Homo sapiens: one gene and its partner. The protein of the gene in region 1 interacts with the protein of each later gene in a pairwise test. Each region holds a gene or a part of one and is shown on either strand. Other genes may lie near its edges. The genes, in order: OARD1 and RAPGEF3.

Region 1 (2,866 bases):
GTCACTAGTCTGTGCTAAGTACTCTGCCAGGCATTTAACATACATTATTTCACTTGTTTTCATGATTAAATTCAGGCAGGTTCAATCACAGAAACCATGCAGTGGACAAAAGAGAGAAAAAGTTCACCATGAGGAGATTCTAAAAACCTGCCTTTTGACTTGTCTATTTTTATCTCTTATTTCTCACTTTGCTTCTCCTCCCGCTTGGACCCTTTGTCTGACTGTTTGAAATTAAGTTGCAGGTGAACCCTCCATTACCCATGTCCAGAACAAATAGACATAAGCACAGAACCTCACTAACTCCCCAAATTTTTATTTTTCCATTTTTATCACCACAAATTTCTTGGTAACAATGTAGAATTTAATTTTGTAATTAAAACAAAAACTCTCCCCTAGGAGGAATCTGATGACATAAGGATAACACCAAGTTATGTGCACAAACGACAAAAAATGCCAAACTAACTGGAATGATCATCCTTCCTGAAATTTCTCTTAAAAAGCAGAGAAGTAGAACCAATGCTGCCACCTAGTGGCCAGCCAAACAAATCAGGTAGCATACTGGAGAAAAAGGTCATAGTCCCGACAATCTGGTTTCCCTGCCTATTATCAAGCCACCTAACTCCTTACTTTTCCACAAAAAAACACAACCACATATCTTAAGCAAGCCCTCCTCCACAGTCATAATCCAAATACTTGAATACAGCAACCAAAGTCTGTCTTGTTAAACACACTACTTCTCATGAAACTTTCCTCTGCCTATTTTAAGGTAGGTTTGCCCGGTCCTATGGCCCAGTAGAGATGACACAGGAGAACACGGAAACATCCAAAATGTTCACTGGTTCAGAGTGTGTACACAGTAATTTTGATGTCTGTTGCCTCAAATACCTCCTCGATCATCGCAGATACATTTTCCCATTGCAGACGATCAAGACCACATCCAATCCTGAAAAAGACAAAATATCTCCATTGATGGTAACGAAAGTATCTAGGAAACTGCTCCTCTCTTTTAAGCTATATCCACTCAAAGCATAAAAACAAATAATCTAGTCTGACACCCTTATGGGCAACCATGGTAGGAGTTTGGAAGTCAATTCTTGTTGTGAGTCACCGAAGACCATTCCTAGACAGCTCTAACATCCAAAAACTATCACTTCTGTTTGCCTAATAAGATACTACTTTCCAACTATTTCATGCTACATTTAGAAATGTGTAACTGTCATGACATTAGAGACTCATTATCCCTCTATGACTACTGACTAAAATTGGCTGTGGATGGATGGTGAAAGGTTGGTATTTTAAAAATGCACTTATGGTAACAGAATGTTAACGAAAGTAAGGAGAAGAGGAATGAGGTACAGGATCTGCAAAAAAGAAAGTCAAGAGGGAATGCTGGGAAATGGTAAGATAGTTGCAATCCAGGAGTAAGGTCTTTGCAACACCCTGGTAAGAATAAACTCAGTCCATAAAACTCTACTACTTGGCACCTTCCAAGATGTTACTCTAGTGATCCTCAACACGCCTAGGGAAAAAAGAGACCTAAAATTGGTAATTTCATGTCATAATGTGATAATTAAGTCCATAAGGAATTGTGATTAAAAAAAAAGTTTCTGATATGTATGTACACCATAAATATATCAAAGACCAGTGTAAAATAAGGGACATTTGAGGCCATATGCAAAGTAATGTGGGGCGCAAGATAAAACTGCATGTATGCTCAGCATTGACTCAAAACTACCAGGGTGACAGGAAGAAAAGAGGTGAGGCCCATTTCCTGAAAAGAAAGCAAAGGGACTACTGAACCCTCAATGTCATTCCCTAAATTCCCAATAGCTAAAGTCTAAGAAGTTACATCAGGGACAGATCCTCTGGCTATTACCCATACTGACCAAAACAAGTGTGCAGTATAAAAGGGAATGATAATTTACAACTTTCTTGACGCAAAGTAATAGGTTTGGGAGATGGGAAGTGGTCCAAGAGGAAAACCACCATTGCTCAGTCTTGATTCTTTAGCTTACATTGCTTTAGGAATAAAGGCCAAGCTTCAAGCAGAGGGTGCTGAGAATTCAACAAATGTAGCTGAATGACAATGGTCGCTCTCTGCTAAGCAGGCTGAGGCAGATGTATATTTCAAGGTAATTGTCCTGATTCATTCAACTCAAGCTAGAAAATGGCTGTGCCTTAGTCTAAAGCCAGACAACTGGTTCACTGGTGGTTTTACAAAATTTTGACTTTTGTCCACCTTTAAATCTATATTTTGGGTTAAGCTTTTAAGTTGTTTGTCTTTGGGTAAGATAGTAAACCCCACCAATCAATTAAATCTCCATTTAGGACCATGGATTTCCTTGCCTGGGCATGGAGAGGTCAGTGACTCCATTCTTCAGACAATGAGACTTCATTGCCTCTAAACTCTTCTGTAAGTTTTCATAAGTTGGCTTGTGCGAAGCCCTTTTCTTTGTAATCTGAACACAAAGGATTCAAACTTTCATCATCCCAAAATGATAGCCAAAGAAAAGTCATCACATTCCCCCAACATCCCAATAATTAAAAGAGTAAGCACATTTTTATAGAATTAGTCTAGAGCAAGGATGACAAATGTCATATTGCCCTTTCCACACTGTTATGGGAGACCTTCAAGAAAATCCACTAAATAGAGGCTGAGAAACCCAGACTCTGCCACGTAGCAATCTTTCCTTTTCCTAGGAAACCCATGAGATTAGCAGATGATGCCTATTGTCAATATTTTTAAGCAAGGTAGGTGAAGTCTCTGTGCCACTTCCAAGAGATAAGCTGCATATCTCTAACAGGGAAGAAAGCATACCACCTGAAAATTCCCTGCTAAAAGCCTCTACTTATTTAGAAACTGTGC
Region 2 (3,824 bases), on another chromosome or scaffold:
GTTTGAGCCAAGGTTGGCAAAGTCTGATTTGTGTTTTGAATAGGTCAGCTAAAGAGCCTGGGCTTTCTCCAGCAGACAATGGACGCCACTGAAGTCGAGTGCGGGAGCTTCACAGGGCTCTGGTCAGGCAGATTGGAGGAGGAGGGCTGGAGGCACCTGGGAGGGAGGAGGAGGAGCATAGTTGGGCCATTGGAGTAGATAAGGAGTGAGGCCTCGTGGGCAGGTGGAACTGGAGTTAGCCTGGGCAGGGGAGGAGGGGGCACAGAAGACCCACTTCAAAGAAGAATCTTCAAAGCAAGATGACAAGCTACGGAAGTGTGGAGGAGCCTGGAGCTGGGGAGAATGGCTGGGGAACAGAGTGGTCTGGGAGGCAGGATGCAAGGATCCGATGGGTATATGGAGTGTGAGGTAATGGATCATTCATGTGGAAGGATGCAGGGGGTTTTTGAGACCAGGGTTTGGAAGAGAGTTCAGCACTGCTGGTAGTTTTGGGAATCACCCATGTGCAGGCGACACATGAGGCAGTAAGGAACTCTGCAGGGGTCCCTGAGATTTGGAAATGTAGGGAAGAGCAATGGATTGAGGTCCGAACCTGGAGGATCTGCTATACGCAGAGCTGGGAGGAGGGACAGAGTCAGTACCAGAGTCGGAAAAAAGCAGGGTGGGAAGGGGAACCTGAGTCAGGAGACTTGCCTGGCAGGCGCTGCCCTGCCAGCAGAGGCCTGACAGTGGTTTCCATGAACTGCATCCCTGCTGTGGGCTGGGACAGGGCCACTGACACAGTATCGGAGCACAGAGGGGGAAAGGAGCAGGAGGGATTCCAACTCTGCCAGTTAGCAGCTGTGTGGCTTTGGGCATGTTACTTAACCTCTCTGAGCCTCATTTATTTCATCCATAAAATGGAAATAAAAATAATACTTTTGTCAAAGGCGCATTGTGAATATTTAGATCCTCAGAATAATGCCTGGCTTGTAGCAAATGGTAGCTGGAGGAAAAGGAAGAGAAAACCAAAGTCAGCAGCTGAAGGATTTTCATATTAGAACTGCTCTGGACCTATCTGGCAGATGCAGAAGCACACACACACGGAGGGGCATGGATTTGCCCCGCCCTTAGACATGTTGTGTCTTCTCCTGGATCCTTGGTCCCAGGTGCCTTACCTGAGCTCAGGTGAATGTGGCAAGCAGAGCCCTCTGGTGGTGTGAATGCTGTGTGGCGCCCGTGCTCCTGGTGACACAGGGACCTCACAATCCCTCCCTCCACGGTCTCCTCTCATGTCCTCCCAGCCTTATTTTCTCGTTCCTCTTCCTCCCAGGCCCGGAACTTGCCTGTTTGGCTCCCCAACCAGGACGAGCCCCTTCCTGGCAGCAGCTGTGCCATCCAAGTTGGGGATAAAGGTTGGTGGTCTGTGCCGGCTGGGCACAGCCCGACATCTGCACCCTGCTGTCTCTGCCTCTCTTGTCCTGCTGTCGTCACTCTTGACCTCGGTGTGCCTGGGCCAAGGTGGCACGCTGTACTCCTCAGGGTCTGTGTTCCAGGCTGCTGGCTAGATCTGCCTCCTACCTGCCTCTTTTTTGCTCAGGGCCTCCCCACCTGCAGCTCAGCCTCTTGGGGATCCCTCCCACCATTACTGCAATAGCCGCCCTCTCCCTCCTGGGGTGGAGATCAGGCAGCCCTTCCCACAGCTCAGTCTGGTCTCCTCTTCAGTCCCCTATGACATCTGCCGGCCAGACCACTCAGTGTTGACCCTGCAGCTGCCTGTGACAGCCTCCGTGAGAGAGGTGATGGCAGCGTTGGCCCAGGAGGATGGCTGGACCAAGGGGCAGGTGCTGGTGAAGGTCAATTCTGCAGGTGGTGAGTTGTGCCCCTGGATAGACCCCAAGGGAGGGTGGCCCCTCGGATCTGCGCCCAGGTCCCCCAGTCAAGATCATTGTCATCATTGTCATCTTTCTGGTCTTCCTCAGTGTGAATGATGGCTAGCATTAATGGGAGGTGGAGTGCGTCTGTTCGAAGTGCATTTCATGCAGTGTGTAAGAGCATGAGCTCTGGAGCCTGCTGCTTGCATTCGGCACCAGCCCTTTAGCTCACCATCTGTGTGTCCTCTGGCAGGGTACTTCATCCCTCTGTGCTCAGTTTTATCATCCATAAAATGGGAATAGTAGGAGTACTTGCCTCCTGGAGGAATTGTGAGGATCAATTGAGTTCATCTATGAAAGCATTTAGAATGGTGCCCGGCACATAGTGATACATAAGTATTAGCTGCTATTATTATCATCATTTGTGTTTAGTCATTTAATATGAATTAATAACAATCTCATGAGATACAGGTACTTTTATCCTATTTTCAGACAAGAACACTGAAGCTCAAAGGGCATGAGCTATTCCTCAAGCTCACACAGTGAGAGTAGCTGGTCTTGGAACTTAAGTAGTCTTCATTTGTTTAGTCACTCAGCAAACATTTTTGAGGATCAGCTATGAGCCAGCAATATGTTAGGAGCTGGAGATACCACAGCAGGTAAAACAGGTCAGCTTGATGGTTAAGAGCATAGACGGTGGACTCCCAGACCCGTGAAGGCATCTTAGGCTCACCATTTACTAGCTGTGTGATGCTGGGCAAGTTGCTTAACCTCTCTGAGCCTGCATTTCCTCACCTGTCAGATGAGGACTGTAATTGTATCTACCCACAGGGTTGCAATGGCTAAGTGAGCTAATGTGTGTAAAGCACTTAGCACAGGGCCTGCCAGTCAGTGCTGAGAACATGGCGGGCTCAGGAGTATTAAGATGGGCCTCCAGAGAACCTGGAACATTCAAAACCACTGTTCTCTGCGGAGGGCACGGGCTTGACAGCTGGAACCCAGGGCAGACAAGAATTAGGGGCGTTCAAGAAGTGGGGATGAGAAAAGAAAAGCCTTCTCCCTTCAGGAAGTGGGGAGAGATGGTCACCTGTGTGCCCTGCCCTGGGAAGCACTGCCCTCTGCTGGCCACCTGGTGAGTTGCAGTTGCCCAAAGGTCATGTTTATTGAGACCCTACTATGTGCCAGGCACTGTTTAGAGCACTGATCTCCGAAGCACTTGGATCGACACCCATGTCAATAACCAACATTTAATTAAAACCCACACCCCACTGTGTGAATATTTGTTTGTAAGTAATACACATATATTACTACATTAATATCATAATAAAGATAGATAAAATAGAAATTGATGGAGTAGAAATGCAAAGCAGGTAGAAAAAGTAAACGTAAGTAGAAGAGCTCATATTTTCCCCAGGCACATGGATGATCTGATGTACCTTACTTTGGAGGCCACTGCTCTAGGGACTGGGGACTCAAGCACAGTCCCAGTCCATGAGGAGCTGATGAAAATCAACACCAAGGCTTATATAAGACACTTCCCAATTTTCAAAGGGCTTTTATACATAGCATGTACTTATAGCTACTATTTATATACATTATTTTATTTGACTTATGAAATAGTTGGGGCAAGTCTTATTGTCTCCATTTTACCAGGGAAGAAAGTGAGGCTGAGGGAGGCTCAGACCCTGCCCAGGTTCTTCCTGACTCACTGAGAATCTTTCCTCATCCTCTTGGATGTGCTTCCCTGGGCTGCGTGGCTGCGTGGGCACATGCACCTGTGTATTCTGAGCACCACCCAGGACTTCAACCCCGCTACTAGGAGAAACAACCTCTCAGCCTCCCAAACAGCACCTCCACCCTGGCATCCAGCTGGTCCCCGGCCTCCCTCCCTTCCCCCACCCAGTCCGCCTCTGCTGTCTTTGCAGATGCCATTGGCCTGCAGCCAGATGCCCGTGGTGTGGCCACATCTCT

What was found.
Region 2: the proteins of OARD1 (region 1) and RAPGEF3 interact in a two-hybrid assay, tested with the Homo sapiens proteins (one large-scale study listed by BioGRID).

The regions. Positions count from the first base shown.
Region 1 is NC_000006.12:41,066,495-41,069,360, forward strand, and holds part of OARD1 (ADP-ribose glycohydrolase OARD1), read right to left. Parts: intron 2,460-2,866; coding exon 2,347-2,459; intron 944-2,346; coding exon 841-943; 3' UTR 1-840. UniProt on the Homo sapiens protein: ADP-ribose glycohydrolase that hydrolyzes ADP-ribose and acts on different substrates, such as proteins ADP-ribosylated on glutamate and O-acetyl-ADP-D-ribose.
Region 2 is NC_000012.12:47,741,557-47,745,380, reverse strand, and holds part of RAPGEF3 (rap guanine nucleotide exchange factor 3), read left to right. Parts: intron 1-1,312; coding exon 1,313-1,394; intron 1,395-1,704; coding exon 1,705-1,851; intron 1,852-3,778; coding exon 3,779-3,824. UniProt on the Homo sapiens protein: Guanine nucleotide exchange factor (GEF) for RAP1A and RAP2A small GTPases that is activated by binding cAMP.